Linked DNA regions of Homo sapiens. The protein of the gene in region 6 purifies or fractionates together with the protein of the main gene of each other region. This does not show direct contact. Each region holds a gene or a part of one and is shown on either strand. Other genes may lie near its edges. The genes, in order: CYP4X1, SLC25A16, ADCY3, ODR4, ZC3H14, SLC22A24 and GDE1.

Region 1 (3,500 bases), on a different chromosome or scaffold from region 6:
TGTATATGCACAATTTTTGTCAGTTAAAAAATAAATTAAAAATGATTACTCAACATTGTATTTTGTGCTATATAGATTAAATCTTTAGTTTATGGTAGGAAAGGGCTTCTATTTCCTTATAAAATGAGATCTCTGATATACTTTTATAATGTCAAATTTGGTTTTACAAATGTTTCAATTGAGTTGACTTTTGCATATGAAATATGGTGTTTTTTATCTGGTCATGCTGCTGAATTGTCCTTAGCATTTCTGTCTTTCTGTCCCTTTGACCAGATTATGTCAGGAACACATTTTATCTTTGCAAACAGCATAACCTGGGCTTTATTAACAGCAGTATATGCTTAAAGTCTAGCAAGATAGAGATGACAGTTTCCACCTGGCTAACTCCTACTTATCCTGCAGTCAGCGTAAATGTCAAGGAAGTCTCCTTGAGCTCCCATGCCAGGGTAGGTACCTGTCTTCTATGTCTTTGTGTTAGCCAGCACATATCTCTATCATTGCCCTCATTATGCTACACTGCAATTTGGAGGTCTGTCTCCTGTCTCCTGTATTAGACCATTAGCTCACCGAAGACAGGGCCCACAATAAATTGTAGTCATAAAAAAAGTCTCAGTATTTAAAATGTCCTCAGTCCATATTTGCTAAACTTAACTATAGTATATATCATCGAATATTATGTCTGAAGTCTAAAATCAATCCTGAGGAATAAAATTGGTGACAAGCGGCTGGGAGATGTCTAAAATGAGCCTTAAATAATGCAGCTAATCATTCAGCTCTCTCAGAAGAGGAGCTCCACTTGGACCCTATTGTTTAAGTTCTAAGTGCCAGCCCAGGGATCAAGTCCTCATTTCCAATGCATCAGAGCCAAGGTGAAATAAAGAAATAAGACATTTCACACACCATTGATTAGAAAACCAATGACAGACAATTTATGGATAAATAAACTTTTTTTTTTTTTCCTGAAAGACAAGAGAATAATTTGGAGCTCTCTTTAGAAAGAACAGAAAAGTAGCCTACTTCTTCTGTTTCACCTACACATATCCTGAGGCACTAGGGTCACTAAGGTACCAGCGCAAAAAATAAAGCAAAATCTCAGGGGGAAAACTAGCAGGAAAATTTAGGGGTGCAGATCTTACCAAGTGATAGAAGACCCATCCCCCAGGATGCCCCTGACCTCCTCCCGGCATCTCTCTTGATGCTCAGGGTTCAGAGCCAGGCAGTAAAGGATCCAGGAGATGCTTGCTGCCAAGGTGTCATGTCCTGCCAACAGGAATGTGCTCACTTCAGAGTGTACATCAATATCTGAGAAGCTGCTACCACTTTCATCCTAGAAAGTACAATACAAATATTTTAAATAAAATGCCAGTTTATAAATGTTTGGAGATACAACCACAATAATGATTTGAGGGGAAAAATCAGAGCTTTAAATAGGGGTTTAAATTTTAATTCAGTTCAACAAATATGTGGTATAAACCATATTCTGCCCAAAGCATAAAGGAGAACCAAGGTTAGATAAGAAAAGCAGGCCTTGCACAAAGGGCCCTCAATCAACAGGCCCTAGAAATTCTCTTCAAACTCCCAGATTTCCCAGGACCTTATCATCATAATTTTTACGTTTATCCATGTGACCATTTTTTCATGATGCCCTAAAATCCATGTATCCATATGACAATCCTCAAATCTTGTCAAATCGTTCGTTTAGTCTTTACTAACCCTCCTCTAGCGACACAGTTGCAGAATTCTCTCTTTGTCTCAAATTGCATGAAGCTGCTCATCAATTCAAAGTACAGTTAAATTTAGTCAATCGGTTTTATTCTTGTCTCCCCATCCCATTCCCACTTACCCACCTACTTACATAATTAACTGGTCACTTGAGCAGGCTTAGAAATTTAGAAGATTTACCTTGGCAGAAAGGACAATATCCAGAAAATCCTGGTACTTCCTCTTCGGAGTGTTATCCTGCTTTACCCCAGCCTGGAGGGATTTCTTTCTTTCCTGGATTATTGTATCTGGGTAGAAAAATAGTTTCCAATTACCAAAGTGATGGCAAAGTCAAATAAATTATAAAGCAAGCCATGGTTAGTGAATAGCTTCAAATCTTGCCTGATTTCCAGACGTTTAAATAGATCTAATTTTCACAGATGGTTTATTTTCTCATCAAAGGGACTTTTGATTAAAGCTCCAAAGATAAACAACACAAATAAAAAACATAGTTTCCATCAGTATGTGGGCAATAAAATTAAGATGATTTCAAGTTTAGATGCAAGTGACCAATTATTCTTTTCTTCCTCAGTCTAATATTTTATCTTCACGGAAAAGTTATTAAATAAAATGGAATGAAATAGAAGACAGGCAAAGAAATGCCAATATATTTATAATTGAAGGAGCTGAGAGAAAAAAAACAAAACAAAAATATGGAACAGAGGTAATATTTATTTACTATTTAAAAAATTTCAACTTTTATTTTAGATACAGGGGTACATGTACAGGTTTGTTACATGGGTAATATGAGAACTCTCTGTACTTTCTGCTGAATTTTTCTGCAAACCTAAAACTTTTCTAAAAATAAGGTCTATTAATGTTGAAAAAAGCCACAAAATCTCCTTAATTAAAACAGTGTGATTCTGGTACATTGGTAGATAGATCAATGGAATACACGAGAACATCCAAATATACTCTTATCCAAAACAGATACCAGTACATGTATCCGTTTAGAATGTGATGGTTATCTCAAATCACTTGAAAAGATAAACTTTTAAATAATGGTGATGGGACAACTGGATAAACATTTGGAAAAATTAGATCAATACCTCACACCATATATAGGAATAAATTCTAAATGGAGTTTAGATCTCTGATTTAAATATGAAAATAATGAAATTATACAAGTACTACAAGAAAACATAAATAATTTTCTCTACAACCTGGGTACAGGGCAGTGGTTCTCAACTGGGGGCCCTGGGAACATTCAATAATGTCTGGAGTTATTTATGGTTGCTATAACTATCAGAGCTCTACTACATCGAGTGGGTAGATGTCAGGGATGTAGCTAAACATCCTACAATGCACACATCTTGACAACAAGGACTTATCTAATCTAAGAAGCCATTAGTGCTGAGGGTTGAGAAACCCTGGAATAGAGAATGGCTTTTTGTGATTACTAAAAATCCAGATGCAATAAAATAAAATATTGATATATTTGACTAAATAAAAATAAACAATTTAAAAAAATTAGCCAGGTGTGGTGGCAGTGCCTGTAATCCCAGCTACTCAGAAGGCTGAGGTAGGAGAATTGCCTGAACCTGGGAGGTGGAGGTTGTAGTGAGCTGAGATCACACCACTGCGCTCCAGCCTGAGTGATAGAGACTCCATCTCAAAAAAAAAAAAAAAAAAAAATTGAAAAGGTTTTAAGTTTTGAATAAATTTAACATTTAATATTTTCCCTAACACTTTGCATTTTGCTTTTTCATCATAATTGTATAATATTTAAAAAGTAAAGA
Region 2 (3,500 bases), on a different chromosome or scaffold from region 6:
ACCTGCAACCTGTGCTTTCCCCAATGGCACTCATATAATCTAAACCAAATTAAATATTTTAATAGAAAATTAATTTGTCAGAAATAAAATATACCTAACTCCTCTTACCTGCCATGGATCCAGCCATTAATCTGTGCACATGACCTGAAATTCCCAGCTTCGTAGTAATTAACTAGAAAACAAGAACACTGAATTAAATGAGATATTTTTTAAATGCTGCCCATTTCACTGTTTAATAATGAAGATTTATTTCAAGAGTTACAGGACTAATAAAAAGGAAATTAATAATAAATGTGAACGAAATGAGCACAATTAAATACAGCTTGGCAGTGTTATATCACAGCAGAAGGGGATATTTCCTCTGTAGTCTCTGCTTTAATTTTTTGCATTTCTGCAGAAGCAAGCTAGCTTAGTATTGCTAAGTATATGATACTGTGTATTAAGGAACACAAGCCCTTAACAAGTGACTGGGGGTAGTAGGAATAAACTGCTACTTTTTTTTTTTTTTTTTTTTTTTTTTGAGATGAAGTCTCGCTCTGTGTCCCAGGCTGGATTGCAGTGGCACGATCTCGGCTCACTGCAACCTAGATTCAAGCGATTCTCCTGCCTCGGCCTCCCAAGTAGCTGGGACTACAGCCGTGTGCCATTACGCCCGGCTAATTTTTTATTTTTTAGTAGAGACGGGGTTTCACCACATTGGTCAGGCTGGTCTCGAACTCCTGACCTCAGGTGATCCACCCACCTCGGCCTCTCAAAGTGCTGGGATTATAGGCTGAAGCCACCGCACCCAGCCTAATTTTTTATTTTATTTTTTAAATGCTCTATAGACAATGAAGTCCTGATACACAAATGGCATCAATTCTCTTTGGCTGACTAGCTTAGAATGTTGTTCCGATCTCTGCTGCTTGTGTTTTTTTTGTTTTTTTTTTTGAGACAGAGTCTGGCTCTGTCGCCCAGGCTGGAGTGCAGTGGTGCGATCTCGGCTCACTGCAAGCTCCGCCTCCTGGGTTCACACCATTCTCCTGCCTCAGCCTCCTGAGTAGCTGGGTTTCACCATGTTAGCCAGGATGGTCTCGATCTCCTGAACTTGTGATCCGCCCGCCTCGGCATCCCAAAGTGCTGGGGATTACAGGCATGAGCCACCGCACCCGGCCTTGTTTTTTGTTTTTTGTTTTGATTCGGAGTCTCACTCTGTCACCCAGGCTGGAGTGCAATGGCACGATCTTGGCTCACTGCAACCTCCGTATCCCGGGTTCAAGCGATTATCCTGCCTCAGCCTCCTGAGTAGCTGGGATTATAGGCATGCGCCACCACATCCAGCTAATTTTGTATTTTTAGTAGAGAAGGGGTCTCTCCATGTTGGTCAGGCTGGTCTCAAACTTCCGACCTCAGCTGATACTCCCACCTCGGCCTCCCAAAGTGCTGTGATTACAAGCATGAGCCACTGTGCCCAGCCAGTTTCACTATTTTGTTTAATAAGAAAATCCAAAGTCACAGTGTTCCTCTCCTACAATTGAGTAACAAAAAGCACACTAAAGGCTGGGGCCCACAGATAGCTTGGGCCCAGGAGTTCGAGACTAGCATGGGCAACACAGTGAGACCCCATCTCTACAAAATATTTTTTAAAAAATCAGCCAGGCCTCTTCTCCACCTCTGAAAAAGAAAGAAAAAACAAATTAGCCGGGGGTGGTGGCACATGCCTCTAGTGCCAGTTACTCAGGAGGCTGAAGTGGGAGAATTGCTTGAGTCCGTGAGGTTGAGGCTGCAGTAAGCCAGGACCACATCACTGCACTCCAGCCTAGGTGACAGAGAAACTATCTCAAAAAAGAAAGAAAAGAAAAGAAAAGAGGGAGGGAAGGAGGGAAGGGAAACACATTAAAAATATATTAATATTATATGGATTTATTATTATCTTCTTTAAAGATATTCTAGCTCTCATTCATTAGGAGTGAACATAAAGAATTTACTTGGCCGGGTGCAGTGGCTATGCCTGTAATCCCAAGAATTTGGGAGGCCAAGGTGGGCAGATCACCTGAATCAGGAGTTCCAGACCAGCCTGACCAACATGGTGAAACCCCGCCTCTACTAAAAATACAAAATTAGCCAGGAATGGTGGTGCATGCCTGTAAGAATCTGGGAGGCAGAGATTGCAGTGAGCCAAGATCATGTCATTGCACTCCAGCCTAGGGAACAAAAGTGAAACTCCGTCTGAAAAAATAAATAAATAAAGGCCGGGCACGGTGGCTCAAGCCTGTAATCCCAGCATTTTGGGAGACGGAGGCGGGTGGATCACGCGGTCAGGAGTTCAGGACCAGCCTGGCCAAGATGGTGAAACCCCATCTCTACTAAAAATACAAAAATTAGCTGGGTGTGGTGGCGGGCGCCTGTAATTCCAGCTACTCAGGAGGCTGAGGCAAAGAACTGCTTGAACCCAGGAGATGGAGGTGGCAGTGAGCCAAGAGTGCACCACTGCACTCCAGCCTGGGCAACAGAGTGAGACTCCATCTCAAAAAATAAAATTAAATAAATAAATAAATAAATAACTCATAAATGACTAACAATTCTGGAATCGGTAATTCCAAAGACAAGTTATATTTAAAATCTTAAGCTGTCACAAGTCTTATTCCTTTAAAAAGGCATTGCTATATCAAAAGTAACTTTTTGGCCTGGTACCATGGCTCATGCCTGCAATCCCAACACTTTGGGAGGCCAGGAGTTTGAGACAAGCCTGGCCAAAATGGCAAAACGCTGTCTCTACTAAACATACAAAAATTAGCCAGGCATGGTGGCATAGGCCTGTAATCCCAGCTACTCAGGAGGCTGAGGCAGGAGAATCGCTTGAACCCAGGAGGCGAGGTTGCAGTGAGCCTTTCAAAATCGTGCCACTGTACCCCAGCCTGGGCAGCGAGACTCTGTCTCAAAAATTAAAAAAAAAAAACCAATAATTTAACTTTTTAAAAATATGAAACTTTTACATATTTTTAAATGTCCAAAGCAAATGCCTGGTCAAGCATGCATGATATTCAAGAACGCAAAAGAGAAAAGATCAAAGTTTAACTACCGTTTTATAATGCTCAAATGCCATAAACTGGATTGCACCATAGGGAAAGATTCGAATCATCATTGCACCATTTCCTTTATACAATCCAAGGAATCCTTCTTTTTGAGGAACAGCACGCAATGCAGAAAATACTCCTATTTTTAGAGGAAAAATGCTGTTAAAACAGAGAAAATTATCTAAACCTAAATTTTCATGACAATCACAGATAAAGATTAATGTGCCATCACTCAAGATATAATTTTGCTTGAGGGATTACATGAATAGTAATTTCTATAAAACAGTTAAACCTACTAAAAATGCATCATATATCCAAATAATATAAATAAGCACACCCCATATAATATAAAACCTACTGTAGAAACAACTACAAATTACAGCAAATTCTATTTATAATAATAGCAAATTATATTAAACTATAGCAATCTAAAAAATATTAACA
Region 3 (3,500 bases), on a different chromosome or scaffold from region 6:
TGAGCTCTAGGGCTGGGGTGGCAGGAAGCAGCACCATCTAGTTGGAGGGAATCAGGCCCCCTCCAGGAGGCAGATGACAGCCCTTTCAGTTGCACACGCTCTGCCCAGCAGGCTGCCCCTGGTGCCTTCCAAGTACTCTATGACGGTGATGGTGTTCCTCATGATGCTCAGCTTCTACTACTTCTCCCGCCACGTGAGTGCCGCCTGCACGATCCCCGCTCTGTGCCCACAGCCCACAGGGCCTCCTGAGAAGCAGCCCTGGGACCTAAGAGCCCAAGCTCCTAAGGAATGGGGCTTCCCTTCACCCAGCCCCACACGTGAGCCTGGTCAGGCCACCGCCTTCTCTATTCAGGCTCCTTCCTCAGTCACACAGGAAGACAGTTCCTCACCTCTTCCGTCCGACCCCCTCCAGGATGGTGAAGGAAGCATGGGAGTGAAGGTGGGAGGGGATAGAGTGAAGGCACAAACATCTTGAATCAAATCAATATCCCCTAGGCCAGGGGCTCATGGCCCCCGCACTCCCCGTGGCGCTGAGGGACATTAACACAACTGACCACAGAGCCAGAAGAGAAAGAGAAGGGAGCTGATGGACTTTCTGTTGGGTTAAAAGGAAAAGAGAAGGCCGGTGCAGTGGCTCATTTTGGGAGGCTGAGGGTGGAGGATCACTTGAGTCCAGGAGTCTGAGACCAGCCTGGGCAATATGGTGAAACCCTGTCTCTACTAAAAAATACAAAAATTAGCCAGGCATGGTGGCCCGCACCTGTAATCCCAGCTACTTGAGAGGCTGAGGCAGGAGGATTGCTTGAATCTAGGAGGTTGAGGCTGTAGTAAGCTGAGATCACACCACTGCACTCCAGCCTGGGTGACAAAGTGAGACACCCCCCCCGCACCCCCCCCCCCCCCGCCACAACCACCGCACTCAACCGGACAAAAAAGGAAAAGAGAAGGAAGAGAGGGAAGAGAAAGATCCTCTGTACTTAGGGCCCAATGTTAGTTCAAGTGCCCCCTACTGGCTTTCCAGGGAAGTACAGCCTTCCCAAGCCACTTCTTACCCAAATGGCGCCTGCTAGAAAGGGGGACTCCACCCTGAGTTGGGAGATCCCCACTGCTGCCACCTCCACGAGACAGACCTGCAGCTGAAATTAGGTCCCAAGAGGCCCCCTACACACGGAAGGCCTCCTGGATCTCTGCTGTAATTACGGAGGCTGGGAACCGCACCACTATTGGGTGGCCTTTTGATGAGGTGCAATCTTTGCAGGGTCTTACTTCCCTTGCCATTTAGCCATCTTCCTTCCAGCCTTTCCAAGGGGAGTTCCTCCATTCACGTTCCTGTTTTTCTTCTTTTTTTGAGACTGAGTCTCACTCTTTTGCCCAGGCTGGAGTGCAGTGGTGCGATCTCGGCTCACTGCAACCTCTGCCTCCTGGGTTCAAGTTGATTCTCCTGCCTCAGCCTCCCGAGTAGCTGGGATTACAGGTGCCCGCCACCATGCCCGGCTAATTTTTGTATTTTTAGTAGAGACAGGGTTTCACCATGTTGGTCAGGCTGGTCTCGAACTCCTGACCTCAGGTGATCCGCCTGCCTCGGCCTCCCAAAGTGCTGGGATTACAGGCATGAACCGCCACGCCTGGCCATTCCTGTTTTTCATCCTTCTATCCAGTGGCCAGCTTAGAGCACATGCCTCGCCTTGTCTGTGTCTGTAGGTAGAAAAACTGGCACGGACACTTTTCTTGTGGAAGATTGAGGTCCACGACCAGAAGGAACGTGTCTATGAGATGCGACGCTGGAACGAGGCCTTGGTCACCAACATGTTGCCTGAGCACGTGGCACGCCATTTCCTGGGGTCCAAGAAGAGAGATGAGGTGAGGGGTGTGGTCTCAGCCCGGAACCATGAGGCCATTTGTCTCCATCTGTTCTTTCTTTCAGGCAGCCCCCGCTGGGCCCAGGCCTTCTCAGGGACAGGGGACTGGGGCCTAGGTAGGGCTGAACCTAAACAGCAAACACAAATAAGCAAAAGAGGAATTTCTCCGGCCTCTTATAAAGTGCACTGCTGTAGGCATCGTGATGTGGGCCGTACAGCTCTGAGGCCATGTGTCAGAAGACAAGACTTTGGCTAGAGCCCACCTTTCTGTTGCCTGTGAACTTCTCCAAACAGAGTGGTTCCCAGCTCTACGGTACCCTCGTCTTCACAGCTGGGGCTGTTAGAGGAACTAGAGAAGCTGTTTTAAAATTTATTCAAAGTAGTGGCCGGGCACAGTGGCTCATGCCTGTAATCCCGGCACTTTGGGAGGCCGAGGCGGGTGGATCATCTGAGGTCAGGAGTTTGAGACCAGCCTGGGCAACAAATAGTGAAACCCTGTCTCTACTAAAAAATACAAAAATTAACTGGACGCGGTGGTGCACACCTGTCGTCCCAGCTACTCGGGAAACTGAGACAGGAGACTCACTTGAACCCGGGAGGTGGAGGTTGCAGTGAGCTGAGATTGTGCCACTCAACTCCAGCCTGGGTGACACAGCAAGACTCCATCTCTCAAAAAAAAAAAAAAAAAGTAGCGATGAGCTATTTTTAAATTATTCAGAGTTGGAATAATCTACAGCCGGGCATGGTGACATGTGTCTGTGGTCCCAGATACCTGGTGTTCAAGGCCGCAGTGTGCTTCGATCATACCTAATTGTGCTTGTTTACTGCCACTGCACTCCAGCCTGGGAAACACAGCAAGACCCACTCTTAAAAAAAAAAAAAAAAATGCTGGAATAATCTGACTGATGTGTGAGTCCAAAAAGCTGAGTGCACATGTCATGCATGGAAGATAGATGCATTTCTCCAACACATCATCCAGTCAGTCGGACATGCTTTGAGCACGTTGTCCGCACCTCTTTTTAGGAGCTGTATAGCCAGACGTATGATGAGATTGGAGTCATGTTTGCCTCCCTGCCCAACTTTGCTGACTTCTACACAGAGGAGAGCATCAACAATGGTGGTATTGAGTGTCTGCGTTTCCTCAATGAAATCATCTCAGATTTTGACTCTGTGAGTGCCCATCCCACCCTGCACTCTGGCCATGAAGCCGGCCCATTCCACATCACATCCTACAATAGGCTGCAGAGGCCAGAGAAACTGGCTTCATTTTCCCAGATAAGCCCCTTCCGCAATACATGGACTTCTGCAGCCACCTGGAACTGCTGGGCTGGGGAAGGGGAGGTGAGGTGGGAGCCCGGGAAATCACCCACAGGGTCACAGGATAAGGATAAGGACTGGCCAAGCAACATCTCGAGACCTCTCTGTCCTGGGACTGTCTCCTCAAATTCAGAGCCGGTCAGCATTGACTGGGTGACCTGTATACCAGGGAGAATGCTTTTACACACGCGCGGAGCCCCCCTAGGAGACTGCCGATTTTATGTCAGTGTTGAGGTTGTGGAAACAGGCCCAGAAAGTTAGGAAGTTCTCCCAGGATCATGTGGCAGATAAGCGGTAGACTAAGTAACAACTTTGATAGGAAAG
Region 4 (3,500 bases), on a different chromosome or scaffold from region 6:
AAGATACTGTAACTCAGCCTTTTTTAAACGTAATGAAGTCTGTTAGAGTAATAGCTGAGAAGCATATAAACTAGTGTAGTTTATATAAATAGTACCTACTAAAGGAGCTATTATATAGTATTTAACACTAATAATATTTTGATTATGGCTAAATTATTTAAAATACTCATAGATATCAACAAAAAATACTAACTTTAAAATGTTAACAAAGTTTACTCATTCTGGCAGGAGAAGTTCACTTGGAATTAATTTTTTTAAAAATCCTCCCTGAAATTCTTAATTGTTGACAAATTTGCTAAATTTGATAGTGTTCTAAAACGTTTTTCTAGAGCCAAGCATGGTGGCTCACACCTGTAATCCCAGCACTTCGGGAAGCCAAAGACAGTGGATCACTTGAGTTCAGGAGTTTGAAACTAGCCTGGGCAACATGGCAAAACCCTGTCTCTAAAAAAACAATACCAAAAATTAGCAAGGCATCATGGCATGTGCCTGCAGGCCCACCTACTAGGGAGGCTGAGGTAGGAGGACTGCTTGAGCCCAAGAGGCTGAGGCTGCAGGTGAGCCATGACTGTGCCACTGCACCCCAGCCTGGGCAACACAGTGAGACTCTGTCTAAAAAAAAAAAAAAAAATCTGAGTAGCAACTGAAAAATTTTCATCCAATAATAAAAGATGATATACTGCTTGAAAATATAGATAGGTAGCTATAAAAGATGACGTATCTGCTATATCTTGATATCTTATTACTATATCAGTTGAAGATACGCAAAAAAGTACTTATTTTATACTCATAACTTTTTTTTCTGGAATTTCATTCAAAAGCAGATCCTCAAATAGCATTTCACAACGATCAGCAACTGTGTTCAATATATCCCTCTTTACTGCCTACAGGGAAAAACACACAAAAAACACAGTAAGAAATAAAATACTTTAGATTTACAATATTTAACTAACAAAAAAAATAATTTGCTTTCCAGTACAATCATGCCCACTAAATAACTGATACATCATTCAATGTTTTATTTCCACTTATTTAGCACACTTATTAACAAATTTATAGTTTAATGATAAATTTATCTAAATAGTTAAAAACAGATAAATGAATAAAATTTCACATCTAAAAAAATAATTGCAGTGTTCCAAATTAGATACTAATATGTATAACAGTGGAACACTTACTAAACTTGTATAGCCATCATTTTTAAAAAGGCACAAAATAGATACTCTACATATGAAAATCTTCACACCAATTATATGGTACATTTGGACTGCACAATAGGCCATTATCAGTTAAAATCGAATTAATAATTACAAAATATAAGATTAAAAAATGGTAAAATTTTAGGTTTTTGTTAATAGTTAACATGGTTCCATATGCTCGTTATTCCTTTTTGTACCTGCACAGCATCTTTAACTTTGGGTTTACTGCTGTGGATATAAGCTCTGCATTTCACAGCACCCTTAAGGTTTACAGAACCGCTACATATCTGGACTGTGGCTGTGGATCTGTGGTCTGAATTCAGGAGCTGAAAGACAAAATCTGTTTAAGTTCTAATAACCAACAATGATTAACTACAGGAAATATTTAAACATTATATTAGCGATTTTATGAAGAGAGAACAAAGTTTTGACTGAGCCAAGCATTTGAAATTATTCTCTGCAAATTATTTAAAGGCCTTCATATTTGTTTTTATAAGTTATATATTATTTTCCAGTCATTTTGAAGATATAATGAAATTAAACACAACTACATCTAAATTTTTCTAACATAACCATCTAAAATGGTTCAATATTCACTCGATATGCTCCTAAAAATATATTATTTGCAAATTATTCACATCAGTACTGTGATGATTAAAAGATATACAAAGAAGATATGATGTACTAGATATAAGTTGTGCAATGCAAAATAAGTTCACAATAACAAATACAAAGTGGGATGTGATAACTATGGTAAAACTACAAGCAATGCACAGACACATATATTTACACACTTTCAACCAAAAACTTTCATAGACTAGTCCCATCCTCTTTAGTCTAAGGAATGCCAGTGCTCTTGTTCGGTTTTCAGGTGTTTCACATATATTTTCAACCCCATCATCTTAATAAGTGCCAAAAACAAGGACAGTATCAAAATAGTTAAAGTACTACAGGTTGAGCATCCCTAATCTAAAAATCCTGAATGCTCCAAAATCCAAAACTTATTGAGCACCAATGTGATGTTCAAAGGAAAAGGTAATTGGAGCATATAAGATTTTAGATTTTTGGCTTAGAGATGCTCAACTGGTATGTATTCTGCAAATATTACAAAATCTAAAAAAAATCCCAAACCCAAAACACTTCTGGTCCTAAGCATTTCAAATAAGGCACACTCAACCTGTAATAGAGGCCTATAATAACAGTGGAAACAAAAAATAATGATTTACAAAAAATAACCAAAAAATGGAAATGGTAAGGAAGTAATTTATGTTCTAAGAACACTTGGAGTATAAGTCATTCAACAACCAAATCAATTCTGAAGAACAAAAGTCAAATCATACAACTTGTGAAAAGTGCTTTGTGCCTATGTGCTTATGCAATCAGGAATAAATGCGGAAAAATAATGAAGAGGAGAATACTGACATGCATAGCTATTGAAAGAGCATTATTGATGTCTAGTGTAATTCAAGCAATGTCTAAGGCAATGTAAATCTTCTAGGTGTTGTTAAACAATTTAAACTTTAAGATGGTCAAGGACTTGTTGACAAAAAATTTGCCACAGACCACACAGCTCCAAAGGTCCTGGGTCCATTCAAAAATGGCTATCATCAAACCAAGCAGCAGTGTGACGATGCTGATACAATGTCTGGAATAAGCTTCCATATGACACATGTAGAGTTCATTGATACATCAATAAGGTGGGGTTGGAGGAGGAGTAACAGGCTTCCCCTATCTACTCCATAACTTTTTATTGTAGACAAAACTACTCTAAAAAGAATGTCCTATTTTACATATTTAACATATAATTTATATATTTTTAACATATAACACATTTATATATTAGTATATGTAAATATATGTGTATGTGTGTATATACATATATCTATCTATCTATCTATCTATCTATCTATCTATCTATAATTATGGCATTGTTATCCAAAACAGACTAGACTATTAAAGACTATACACACACATATTAAAGAAAAGAGGTATTTTTTTGGTTGGTTGGTTAGTTTTATTTTGTTTTGTTTGAGGCAGGGTCTTGTTCTGTCATCCAGCCTAGAGTACAGTGATGCTATCAGAGCTCACTGCAGCCTCAAGCTCCTAGGCTCAATCGATCCTCCCACCTTCGCCTCCCAAGTAGCTGGGACTACAGGCACACACCATCACCCCCAGCTAATTTTTGTATTTTTTTGTAGAGACAGGGTTTCACTTGTTGCTCAGACTCATCTTGAACTCCTAGGCTCAAGCGATCACCCTGCCTAGGCCTCCCAAAGTGCTGGGATTACAGGCATGAGCTAC
Region 5 (3,500 bases), on a different chromosome or scaffold from region 6:
AGCTGATTCTGAAATGCAAACAACTGATGGGTGTCATTTTGTGTTGTCAAATTCTGTACTCTCTGGCCGACCTGTTGTAGCCAATGTGTAAACTTGTGTTAAGAAGCTGATGGTAATGAGCTACTCTAAAAAGATTTAAGTTTTGCTGTGGATTTGGTGGGTGTACTTACAGCATTGCCCTGCTTATCCACTCTCTCGCTTTTTTTTGTGACCCCCCTTCCTAAAATGAGGTAAACTGTAGCCATCAGTTTTTTTATTTGTTTTCTTTTTTTGAGGCGAAGTCTTGCTCTGTTGCCCAGGCTGGAGTGCAGTGGTGTGATCTTGGCTTACTGCAATCTCTGCCTCCTGGGTCCAAGCGATTCTCCTGCCTCAGCCTCCCAAGTAGCTGGGATTACAGGCGCCCACTACCATGCCAGGCTAATTTTTTTGTATTTTTAGTAGAGGCGGGGTTCCACCATGTTGGCCAGGCTGGTCTCGTACTCCTGACCTCAGGTGATCACCTGCCTCCTCGGCCTCCCAAAATGCTGGGATTACAAGCGTGAGCCACCGCGCCTGGCACCATCAGTTTTTGATCCTGATACTTGTCTGTCCTCTTGGTTCTCCTCATCCCTAATTTAACCTTGAACACAAAATTCAACAGGTTTTGGCATATAGAATAAAGATTATCAGGCAAAGGCGCACTCTTGACCTAATGATATATCTACATTTCATTTCCTGATCTATCAGCAATATTAATTGTCTAGAATGATGAGAAGTTTAGAGAAGTTCCATGACTTTGAAATTTTCTTTCTTTACCTAGGTTATCTAAATTACAATTTGAAACTCATATAAGATCATGAAGCTAAGCTTAAATAAACCGCATTTTGTTGAAAATGAATACATATGTACTATATTGTATTCATGGTATGTGGTTGTATGGATATTGTTTACATATGTTTGGATAAATAGGTTCAGGTATCTATCTCAGTAACGTAAGAAAAAATGAATGGTATCTATGGATTGAACTCCTCATATATATGTTCTTTTCTTTTCTTTTTCTTTTTTTTTTGGAGACAGAGTCTCACTCTGTTGCCCAGGCTGGAGTGCACAGTGGTGCAATCTCGGCTCACTGCAACCTCCGCCTTCCGGGTTTAAGCAATTCTCCTGCCTCAGCCTCCTGAGTAGTTGGGATTACAGGTGTGTGCCACTATGCCCGGCTAGTGTTTGTATTTTTAGTAGAAACGAGGTTTTACCATGTTGGCCAGGCTGGTCTCAAACTCCTGACCTCAAGTGATCCACCCACCTTGCCTCCCAAAGTGCTGAGATTACAGGCATGAGCCACTGCGCCCAGCCTGAACTCATATGTCCTAAACCAAAGGAGGCATTTATATTTAATATGACATAGTCACTGTGGAGTTTTGACGTATTACTGCATTTGTATTTCTATCTTTTTTGCTTTTATGTGAAAGTTCCACAGAAACAGACACTTCCAGTTGCTCCCAGAACTCGAACTTCTCAAGAAGAATTGCTAGCAGAAGTGGTCCAGGGACAAAGTAGGACCCCCAGAATAAGTCCCCCCATTAAAGAAGAGGAAACAAAAGGAGATTCTGTAGAAAAAAATCAAGGTAATAACTTAAATGATGTTTCACTCTTTACTACAGTTTTTTCATGAGGCATTGAATATTTTCCAATGGATTTTTATGAAATATTACACTATGAAAAAAGTGATGATTAAGCCCAGAAATAGAATGAGAAGAATACCATGAGGAAGGTTCATACCAACACTTCAGAAAAAAATTTTTTTTTTAAAGAGGTAGGGTCTTGCTGTGTTGCCCAGGCAGTCCTCAAACTCCTGGGCTCAAGCAGTCCTCCTGCCTCAGCATCCTTAGTAGCTGGAGGTGTGTACAAGTGTGTGCCACTGCACCCAGCCCTTTCTAGAAATTTTTGAAAGTCTTTTTATTGTGGAAATTTTTAATATTCTCAAAAATGGAAAGGCTAGTACAGTGAACTCTCATGAACCCAGTCATTAAGCCTTAGTTATTATCAGAATTTTGCTGGTCTTTAGATAGCTCCTTCTTAAAGATATATTTATTTCTGCATTCTTTCTTTTTCTCTTTTTGTTGATCCTGCCCGTTTACCTGAACTTGAAATTTTAGTTACCTTTAAATCTCCCGTCTCTTAAGCATCCTGTCTCTGACCTCCCATATGTGTCCCAGCAACCCTAATTTATCCCCTCGTGCCTAACATACTTCAGTTTGCTTCCAGGTTTTTTTTTTTTTTTTTTTTTTTTGCTTTTTTCTCAGCTTTCTCCCCCAATTCCTATACAATCTTTTGACTTTGAAAGTGTGTCTCTCATCTTCTGACTCCTTTGTGAAAGTATCTCTCCCCTCCTCCTCATTACCCAGAACTAACGCTATTAGTTTGGACTTTTGGTGTCTGTTATCTGACCCCTGGGCCTGCACAGCCCTTCTCCATGACTCTTCAGACCTTTTGTCTCTTTTGTCGTCAAGAAGGATTCTTTTTTCTTCTGTTTCTTTTTCTACTAAGATTTGAATTTTAAGACCCCACCAAAAAAATCTATATGCTTATTATGTTATTTCTCACATACTTTTCAAGAACCTTGGAATATATTTTTTCATTTCTTCAAAACTGTCCTTTAAATTGTTCCAGGTTTCATGAAACCTTATGATTTCAGAATTGTCAATTCTGTATTTGTTTCCTCATTGTGTCTCTTTAAAAATTTTTGACTGTATTGTTCAGTTTGCCATGACAGCGTTATATACTATTCTGATAATTGATAGGCCTGAGGACAAGACCTGTTTGGTCCCCAAACAGCAGATAGGTACCAATTGGAAAATGTGAATGGGCCAAATTGAGAAGAGGAGCTGAAACTGAGGAGGGATTTTGCTCAGTGCAGTGGCAGATGAGGCTGATCTAAAAGGACTGCAGTGGTCTACTCCCTGTGGAGTCTGTAGTGTGTTGCACCAAGGTTTTCTTCAAACACAGGACTCTACGTGAGAGTCTTGGAGTGGAATCAGATGGAGCAGGGAAACAGACAATAGAGAAAAGGAAAGAATGTCAGATAAAAATAGGAGAGGAAAACAATAGGAAATCTCAAAGCAAGGTGCCATATTTTTTAACATCACAAAATCAACAGAAGAAGGTTGTTGATTCTGAAGTTAGAATAGCTATCCAAAGCAAACTTTCCCCTAAAATGAACAACAGAAAAGTATCAAGGTCAAGTCCTGTGCCGAATTAAAAGATAAAAGGGAATAAAAGACAAAACAGCATTGTTTCAATGAAAGCATGCTGAAAGGTATACCAAAAAGAAATACAATTTCAAAGTGAGCTAGAAGACATTATTTAAATAATACAAGACAAAGCCAAGAAAAACATAAAACAGAAGAACTTTGAGGCTGGGTGCAGTGGCTCATGCCTGTAATCCCAACACTTTGGGAGGCTGAGGCAGGAGGATCACTTGAGACTAGCCTGGGCAGCATAGCAAAACCCTGTCTCGACAA
Region 6 (4,121 bases):
AGGATACAATTGGAGAAACTGGTCATTTTTCCAAGGCTTTGACTGGAATGGCATGCTTCTTGTAAAGAATCAAAGTTGACTTATGGAACCAATTAAAACCCACTGGGGAATCTGGCCTCATACCTTGTCCAGACAGAGTCCCTGTACAAGGTTCCTGACCTGTGTTAAGTAAAGAATGTCACTTTCTAACAGGCCCAGGAACCCCAAGTTATCTTGAGGAGAGGACTTTGTTCAACTCATAGGTATCTGAGGGTTCAAACCCATGGCTGGGCTCGGCTTTTAAAAAGCCTTATCTGAGATTCTTCATGGAACAGAGTTTCATCAAAGCCAATTAAAAAAGCCTAAGTGAAAAATAATTATTCTTGCTGCACTTTATGCAAATAATCAGGCCAAGTACAGTGAAACTAAAGTTTGTTTTGTAAACTGTAAGTCAGTTCTATCATAATTTGTTTTTAATAAAAATAGGGACTGGAGAGAGAAAAATTATGCTTCAAAAGAAAAACTATATTACACTTTTGTTAGCTGTTCTTGATGTTTTTTTTTCTGCAGGTTAGACTAAATTCTAAATTATTTGTGAGTTAGAAGGCCCCAGACAAATGCTTTCCAATCTTTGCTTTTAAAATTGGGAATTGTACTCCTCATCCTAGGACTCATTATTTACCTTATAGCATGCTCTTCATTTAAATACTGTACTAAAACTATAGATGAGAGTACTAATATTTTTGCCACACAAGCCTTGGAAGCCCATCCAGGCCTGCATGAATACACTCAGTAGCAAAGCAGTTCCACTCTTCTCACCTTGGGGTTCACTCCCATTCCCATTATGTCCCCTGTCAGCAGGAAGAAGCTGGAGTGATAGATGGCCTTTTCCCGTCTTCATAGCCTACATCTTAAGATTAAGGTGTTATAAAACCCAAAGGGAGGGATTGAAACTGCCTTTGCAAAATTATGACTGAGACCGTGAAAGAGATCTAACTTAACCGACTCCATCTTGCTTCTGACCTCCAAGCTGTCCTTGTGCATTCCTGGGCATAGGCTGAACTAACTTTGGGAGAAACTTAGTTTGTAGTTTATAGTTTGAACAAAGACAGCCTTTCCCAAAGCAGACCTCCTTCTTGCCTGGGGACTAGATTAACGTTAGCCACAGGATTAGAAATTATCATTTAGTAGTCACACAGCTGGAGGCTACAAGATTCTGACCCTCCCTAAACTGCTCCTAAGATCAGTGCTTGAGATATTTTGCAGATCCCGCACTTGATGGATCAGCTGTCACCACCCAGATCGATAAACTGGCTCATCTGATCTTGTGACCCCCACTTAGGAAGTGACTCAGCACAAGAAGGCAGCTTTGACTCCCTATGATTTCAGCCCTGATCAGTCAGCACTCTTGGCTCACTGGCTGCCCCCCAACCACCAAGTTATCCTTAAAAACTCTGCTCCCCGAATGCTCAGGGAGACTAATTTGAGTAGTAATAAAACTCTGGCCTCCCTCAAAAAACAAAAAGCAAAAAACAAAAACAACCAAAACTAAGTATCTCAACAACATTTTGTAGGAGAAACACTTTCACAACCAGCAGAATGCAGAAAAATTTGTCAAATCCCAAAGCGTGGATATTTATGTTACAGAATTAACAAACTTATTTCTCATTGCCAAAAATGTGTTGATTGTAATGGTTCCTATTTTGATTAATAAAGATGTGTTTGAGCCTAGTTATAATGATTTAAAATTCATGGTCTAATACCACAATTTACTTTTACACCAATATAATACTAATACACTTGGCTGTATCGTAGAGTATTAATAGATAATCAGGTGCTGCCACCTGCTAAAGGAATGAAGAATGAGCTGACTGCAGGTCCCATCTAAGGACTAAAGGTATAAAGCAAGTCAATTTTTTTGTGTTAACTCCAAACACTTTAATCATATAAACAGAAGATTTACATGGGGCCTCTTACCTCAGTCACGATGGTGGAGAGGAAAGAGCTTCTGTCGTACACCCAGCCATCCACACAGGGCTCCGTGTCTGGCTCATTTGTGTTGGGGAAGGTCCCGTTCAGGTGAAGGAGCTGCCACTGGGGATGGATAAAGCGCTGACACTTCTGTGGCCTCAGGTTTGAGTCCAGTGGGATGGAGATTCTCAGGAGGTCATCCTTGCTGAGGGTCCCGGTATCATTGTCAGACACAGTGTCATTGTCCAGGAGGGGGACCCAGCAGCGATGACTAGGGGTGAATGCAGTGAAGTTCTCCAACACAATATTAGGGAACAGTAGGATGTTGGTGATGCAAAAGAAAGCTATCAGACAAATCTGGAATCTCCCCATGCCACCCACTTGATCCAGGAGCACATCAAAGCCCATTGAGACTGAACAGGTGATCCCCAAGAGGAAGCACAATGACTTTATGAAGAGAAGTTCAGAGGGAGAAAATGTCCCCTTTCACAAAGTTACCATAGTGCCATGTGGATCCTGACACTGCTTTCTTCTTGGTGGGCCCTGCACTGAGTGGTGTGACACTACTGCAGAAGAGCAGTGGAAGGACTTTCCCCAAGTCCTTTAACTTTAGGCAGCCAAATAGTTTCAGAAGTCACAGATATAATTATTTGGCAAAGAGACTGCTAGCTGTTGACAACTGAATCTTCTTAAAAGACTACTCTGTGAAAGATCCTGATCTCTGAGTTTCCTGATAAGTCAACGGTGGATTTTCAGGTGGATGCAGTCCCCACGTGACCTAAAATACACCTGTTCAATAGTCTGCCATTCTTCTTAGAAATGGGATATTAGAAAATCCAAAGTGAATTGCTTTATGATGTTCTTGTACAAAGATCAGAGAGCAGGGCTTTTTTTGGACTAGGACTGAGTTTTACTAAAAGTTAATAAAAACTATTCTTAGTTAAAGGAAAGTGGAATGTTGAGTTTAAACATTGACTTTTGCTAAGTGTAGTTCTGCTTCAGTTCAAGTCATACCAATGACAGGGCTTTAAAGATTTTTTAAAATAGGGAAATTAGGATAAGAAACAAAGAGAAAGGAAATAGTGCTTTTATGTATTATAGTAGTATATTTCACCAGATTTATTGATTCATTCAAATATCATTTTGGGCTTTCTGGTGCTATTGCTGTAAATAAAGCAATGTTAACTTACATATATTTATTTATAAGTTTAAAATAAAATTTGAGCTCAATGTCTCATATAAATGATAGGTTTGTAAATAATTGTACTGTAATGTCATCATATAACTATAAGGAAGATACACAGTGTGCTATGGAAGATTAAGGAGAAACTGTTTAATGATACCTGGATAGATGCCATGGAGCAGGGGAGTCATCCCTCTACAAATTAACTTTACCTACTCTTTTTTTTTTTGAGACAAAGTATCACTCTGTCACCAGGCTGGAGTGCAGCGGTGGGATCTTGGCTCTCTGCAGCCTTGACCTCCTGGGTTCAATCAATTCTCATGTCTCAGCCTCCCAAGTAGCTGGGATTACAGGCATTCACCCACATGCCCAGCTAATTTTTGTATTTTTTATGGAGAAGGGGTTTCATCATATTGGCCAGGCTGGCCTCAAACTCCTGACCTCATGTGATCTGCCCACCTCAGCCTCTGAAAGTGCTGGGATTACAGGCATGAGCCACCATGCCCAGCCAGCTTGACCTACTCTTGTGGGAAGATTCTTGAGATAATGAAGCAGTGGATGAGGGACTGCAAGAGTCAATTTTTAAATGAGGGAATAATAAGTACACAATTACAGTTAAAGGTGTGGCATAATTGTGTACCTACAAGGATATTCAAAAGCTAGCAGCTAAATAGCATGCACGGATATAATGGGAAAAGACAGGTTGATTAAAAAGAAACCCAAAGAAACAAACAGAATCTCCAGAATTTATTCTGCCTACAAGAAGTTCTTATTTTTGAATTTCAAACTGGTCACCCGTGAAACATCTTAAGATGCAGATTCCTGGATGGGTGCAGTGGCTCACACCCATAATCCCAGCTACTCAGGAGGCTGAGGCAGGAGAGCCACTTGAACCTGGGAGTGAAGGTTGCAGTGAGCTGAGATTGTGCCACTGCACTCCAGCCTGGGTGACACAGCAAGACTCTGTCTCAAAAAAAAAAAAAAAAAA
Region 7 (3,500 bases), on a different chromosome or scaffold from region 6:
GGATTGTATGGTAGTTCTATATTTTTAGTTTTTTGAGAAACCTCCATACTGTTTTCCATAATGGCTGTACTAATTTACATTCCCACCAACAGAATATAAGAGTTCCTTTTGCTCTGTATCCTCGCCAGCATCTGTTATTTTAAAAATCTTTTAAATAATGGCCATTCTAACTAGATAAGATGGTACTTCATTGTGGTTTTGATTTGCATTTCCCTAATAATTTGTGGTGTTTTTTCATATGCCTGTTGGCCATTTGTGTGTCCTCTTTTGAAAAATGTTTATTCAAATTAGGATTTGAATAGATGTTTTTAATGGGATTATTATTGTTTTTGCTGTTAAGTTCCTTGTATATTCTGGATATTAGTTACTTGTCTGTTGAATAGTTTGCAAATATTTTCTCCTATTCAACAGGTTTTCTTTTTACTCTGTTGATTATTTCCTTTGCTGTGCAGAAGCTTTTTAGTTTAATATAGTCACATTTGCCTGTTTTTGTTGCCTGTGCTTTTGAGGTCTTAGCCATAAAATCTTTGCCTAGATCAATGTCCCAGAGCTTTTCCCCTGTGTTTTCTTCTAGTAGTTTTATAGTTTCTGGTCTTAAATTTAAACTTTTAATCCATTTTGTGTTGATTTTTTAAATATAGTGAGAGATAGGGGTCTAGTTTCATTATCCTGCATATGGATATCCAGTTTACCCAGTACCAGTTATTGAAGAGAGTTCCTTTCCCCCACTGTAATGTTCTTGGTGCCTTCATGGAAAATCAGTTGGCTGTAAATATATGGATTTATTTCTTGGTTCTCTATTGTATTCCACTGGTCTATGTATCTGTTTTGTGTGTGTGTGTGTGTGTGTGTGTGTGTGTGTGTGTGTGTCAGTATTTATACCAATACCATGCTGTTTTGGTTACTGTGGCTTTGTAGTATATCTTGAAATGAGGTAGTGTGATATGTCCAGCTTTGTCCTTTTTGTTCAGTATTGCTTTAGCTATTTGGGCTTCTTTACGGTTCCATATGAATTTTAGGATTGTTGCTTTTCTATTTCTCTGAAGAATGTCTTTGATATTTTGATAGGGATTGCACTGAATTGTAAATTATTTTGAGTAGAATGGTCACTTTAGGAATATTAATTCTTCTGATCCATGAGCATGGGATGTCTTTCCATTTGTGTCCTCTTAAGTTTTCTCATCAGTGTTTTGTAGTTTTCCTTGTAAGAGCTCTTTCACCTCTTTGGTTATATTTATTCCTAGGTATTTTGTTATTTTTTTTTTGGTAGCTATGTAAATGGGATTACTTTCTTGATTTCTTTTACAGCTAGTTCATTATTTACGTATAGACATGCTACTGATTTTTGTACGTTGATTTTATATCCTGCAATTTTACTAAATTTGTTTATCAGTTTTAACAGTTTTTTGGTGAAGTCTTTAGGTTTTTCTACATACAAAATCATGTTGTCAGCAAAGAGGTACAATCTGACTTCCTCTTTTTCCAATTTGGATGCCTTTTATTTCTTTCTCTTTCCTGATTGCTCTGGCTAGTCAATCATTCCATATTTAGCAAAATTGATATGAAGGTCGAAAGAATCATGGAGGAAGTAATTAACCATATTATCCAGAGTTTGCTGTACTTGGAACTGATAAAACTGAAAGTATCCAGTAAGTACAGACTAAATGTAATCATAAACTTCCCTTTTATTGCATAAGACTTTCAAACATGCTGTGGTTGCTTTTAAACACAAGTAGGTTGGGCTGTAATTGTGTAAGAAGCAACAAGTAAATGGTTTGCACAAGCACTTTTAGAAAGGTTAAGACAACTGGACCACATGGTGGTGCCCAAGACATTTTTAATTCATATCCTGGTGACAAGTGAGCATTGAAAACCCAAGACTCGTAGATGAGAAGAATTGAAGCACACAGACACCTGAGCACAGAGATTAGAGATTGATGGTCTTTGGTTTCTTATATTGTATAATGGATGTTATTTTTCTGTTTTTTGTTTTGTTTTGTTTTGATTTGTTTTCCTTTTCTGGTAATTCTGTGCTTCTGACACTAGCTATAAATTGGGGTTCCCACCTCCTCCTCCTTGGGTTCAATTAATTTGTTAGAGTGGCTTGCGGAACTCAAACACGTTTACAGGTTTATTATAAAGTATGTTACACAGCATACAGATGAAGACATGCATAGGGTGAGGTATGGGGAAAGGGGCATAGAGCTTCCATGCCCTTTCTGAGTGCTCCATCATTCAGGAACCTCCATGTGTTCAAATACAGATATTCTTGACCAAAGACCAGCAACAACAACAAAAATCATTTAATTTTTAAGAAATCACTGAATTTCTATTGAATTAATAACATTATTAATAACCCTACTTCCCAAAGGGCAGAGTATATGCCACCTTTGGAAAACTCAAAGACTTAATTTTCAGATTGTAATTTCCCTAATAGAATGCTATGCAGGAGGAATTCTTAGGAATACATAAATCTGTTAACTGTATTGTGTATTTATTTAAGTGCAACTGTTTAAAATAAATAATGTTCTAAGACATAATTTTCTGATAAAGAAAATGAAAACTAAGTGCTTGATACAAAAGAAATTAGCTTTTCTCTCATAATAAAATTATTATTTAACTTAATGCTAATTCAACTGCATTATTTCAACTGTAAGATCATGCTTTTAAAAAAGGGTAAGGATAGGCCAGGTACAGTGGGCTCATGCCTGTAAATTCAGCACTTTGGGAAGCTGAGGCAGGCAGATCACCTGAGGTCAGGAGTTCGAGACCAGCCTGGCCAACATGGCGAAACCCCGTTTCTACTAAAAATGCAAAAATTAGCTGGGTGTGGTGGCATGTGCCTGTAATCCCAGCATTCTGGAGGCTGAGGCAGGAGAATCACTTGAACCCGGGAGGTGGAGGTTGCAGTGAGCCAAGATCATGCCATTGCACTCCAAACTGGGCAACAAGAGTGAAACTCCAACTCAAAAAAAAAAAAAAAAAAGATAAGGATAATTTAAACATTACAGGCAATTATCCCAGCCATTCTAATCAATTTCTATTCCCTGAGAGTGAAAGATGGGAGACCTGAATTTGTTATTCCTTTGGCTGATCTTAGTTTCCTCCTTATCCTCCTCTCAGGACAAGCATCTCATCACACTGAGCATAATTCTAGAGAAAATATCTATTTTTTCCCACAACATAATCCGTAAACACAAGCCAATTACTTCATTTAGTTTTCAATCATAGAACACACTCTGTTCCAATAGTGGAGCAAAGACTGGTTGTGTTAAAGACACTGAGATAATATGTTGCCTTTGCTGTCTTCTTAAGGGATTTTTTGAAAATCACAATTTTTTTTCCTAGGATGCACAAATTCCAGAGAAATGGACTCAGTGCTCCCTTAAAGGATTTTTAAGGGTAATGATGACCCTAAACATTTTTGCTTTAAGTATTAACTTTGAACCTGACATTTTATTAGCTGCAATGTCATTATAATATTCAAACCAGCCTTTCCC

Evidence for each region.
Region 1: the proteins of SLC22A24 (region 6) and CYP4X1 purify together in Homo sapiens (affinity purification with mass spectrometry; one large-scale study listed by BioGRID and IntAct). This does not show direct contact.
Region 2: the proteins of SLC22A24 (region 6) and SLC25A16 purify together in Homo sapiens (affinity purification with mass spectrometry; one large-scale study listed by BioGRID and IntAct). This does not show direct contact.
Region 3: the proteins of SLC22A24 (region 6) and ADCY3 purify together in Homo sapiens (affinity purification with mass spectrometry; one large-scale study listed by BioGRID and IntAct). This does not show direct contact.
Region 4: the proteins of SLC22A24 (region 6) and ODR4 purify together in Homo sapiens (affinity purification with mass spectrometry; one large-scale study listed by BioGRID and IntAct). This does not show direct contact.
Region 5: the proteins of SLC22A24 (region 6) and ZC3H14 purify together in Homo sapiens (affinity purification with mass spectrometry; one large-scale study listed by BioGRID and IntAct). This does not show direct contact.
Region 7: the proteins of SLC22A24 (region 6) and GDE1 purify together in Homo sapiens (affinity purification with mass spectrometry; one large-scale study listed by BioGRID and IntAct). This does not show direct contact.

The regions. Positions count from the first base shown.
Region 1 is NC_000001.11:47,037,169-47,040,668, reverse strand, and holds part of CYP4X1 (cytochrome P450 4X1), read right to left. Parts: intron 2,010-3,500; coding exon 1,903-2,009; intron 1,328-1,902; coding exon 1,137-1,327; intron 1-1,136. UniProt on the Homo sapiens protein: A cytochrome P450 monooxygenase that selectively catalyzes the epoxidation of the last double bond of the arachidonoyl moiety of anandamide, potentially modulating endocannabinoid signaling.
Region 2 is NC_000010.11:68,503,524-68,507,023, forward strand, and holds part of SLC25A16 (solute carrier family 25 member 16), read right to left. Parts: intron 3,196-3,500; coding exon 3,062-3,195; intron 173-3,061; coding exon 109-172; intron 1-108. UniProt on the Homo sapiens protein: May be involved in the transport of coenzyme A in the mitochondrial matrix. Very little is known about the physiological function of this carrier.
Region 3 is NC_000002.12:24,822,738-24,826,237, reverse strand, and holds part of ADCY3 (adenylate cyclase type 3), read left to right. Parts: intron 1-108; coding exon of another isoform or gene 109-111; coding exon 112-193; intron 194-1,701; coding exon 1,702-1,860; intron 1,861-2,882; coding exon 2,883-3,029; intron 3,030-3,500.
Region 4 is NC_000001.11:186,396,338-186,399,837, reverse strand, and holds part of ODR4 (protein odr-4 homolog), read right to left. Parts: intron 1,540-3,500; coding exon of another isoform or gene 1,526-1,539; coding exon 1,397-1,525; intron 885-1,396; coding exon 794-884; intron 1-793. UniProt on the Homo sapiens protein: May play a role in the trafficking of a subset of G-protein coupled receptors.
Region 5 is NC_000014.9:88,576,537-88,580,036, forward strand, and holds part of ZC3H14 (zinc finger CCCH domain-containing protein 14), read left to right. Parts: intron 1-1,448; coding exon 1,449-1,604; intron 1,605-3,500. UniProt on the Homo sapiens protein: RNA-binding protein involved in the biogenesis of circular RNAs (circRNAs), which are produced by back-splicing circularization of pre-mRNAs.
Region 6 is NC_000011.10:63,141,422-63,145,542, forward strand, and holds the start of SLC22A24 (steroid transmembrane transporter SLC22A24), read right to left. Parts: upstream 2,801-4,121; 5' UTR 2,359-2,800; coding exon 1,957-2,358; intron 1-1,956. UniProt on the Homo sapiens protein: Renal transmembrane organic anion/dicarboxylate exchanger that participates in the reabsorption of conjugated steroids including estradiol-17beta-D-glucuronide (or 17beta-estradiol 17-O-(beta-D-glucuronate)), androstanediol glucuronide (or 5alpha-androstane-3alpha,17beta-diol 3-O-(beta-D-glucuronate)), and estrone 3-sulfate, as well as bile acids taurocholate and glycocholate, driven by an outward gradient of dicarboxylates such as glutarate or succinate.
Region 7 is NC_000016.10:19,512,099-19,515,598, forward strand, and holds part of GDE1 (glycerophosphodiester phosphodiesterase 1), read right to left. Parts: intron 1-3,500. UniProt on the Homo sapiens protein: Hydrolyzes the phosphodiester bond of glycerophosphodiesters such as glycerophosphoinositol (GroPIns) and glycerophosphoethanolamine (GroPEth), to yield a glycerol phosphate and an alcohol.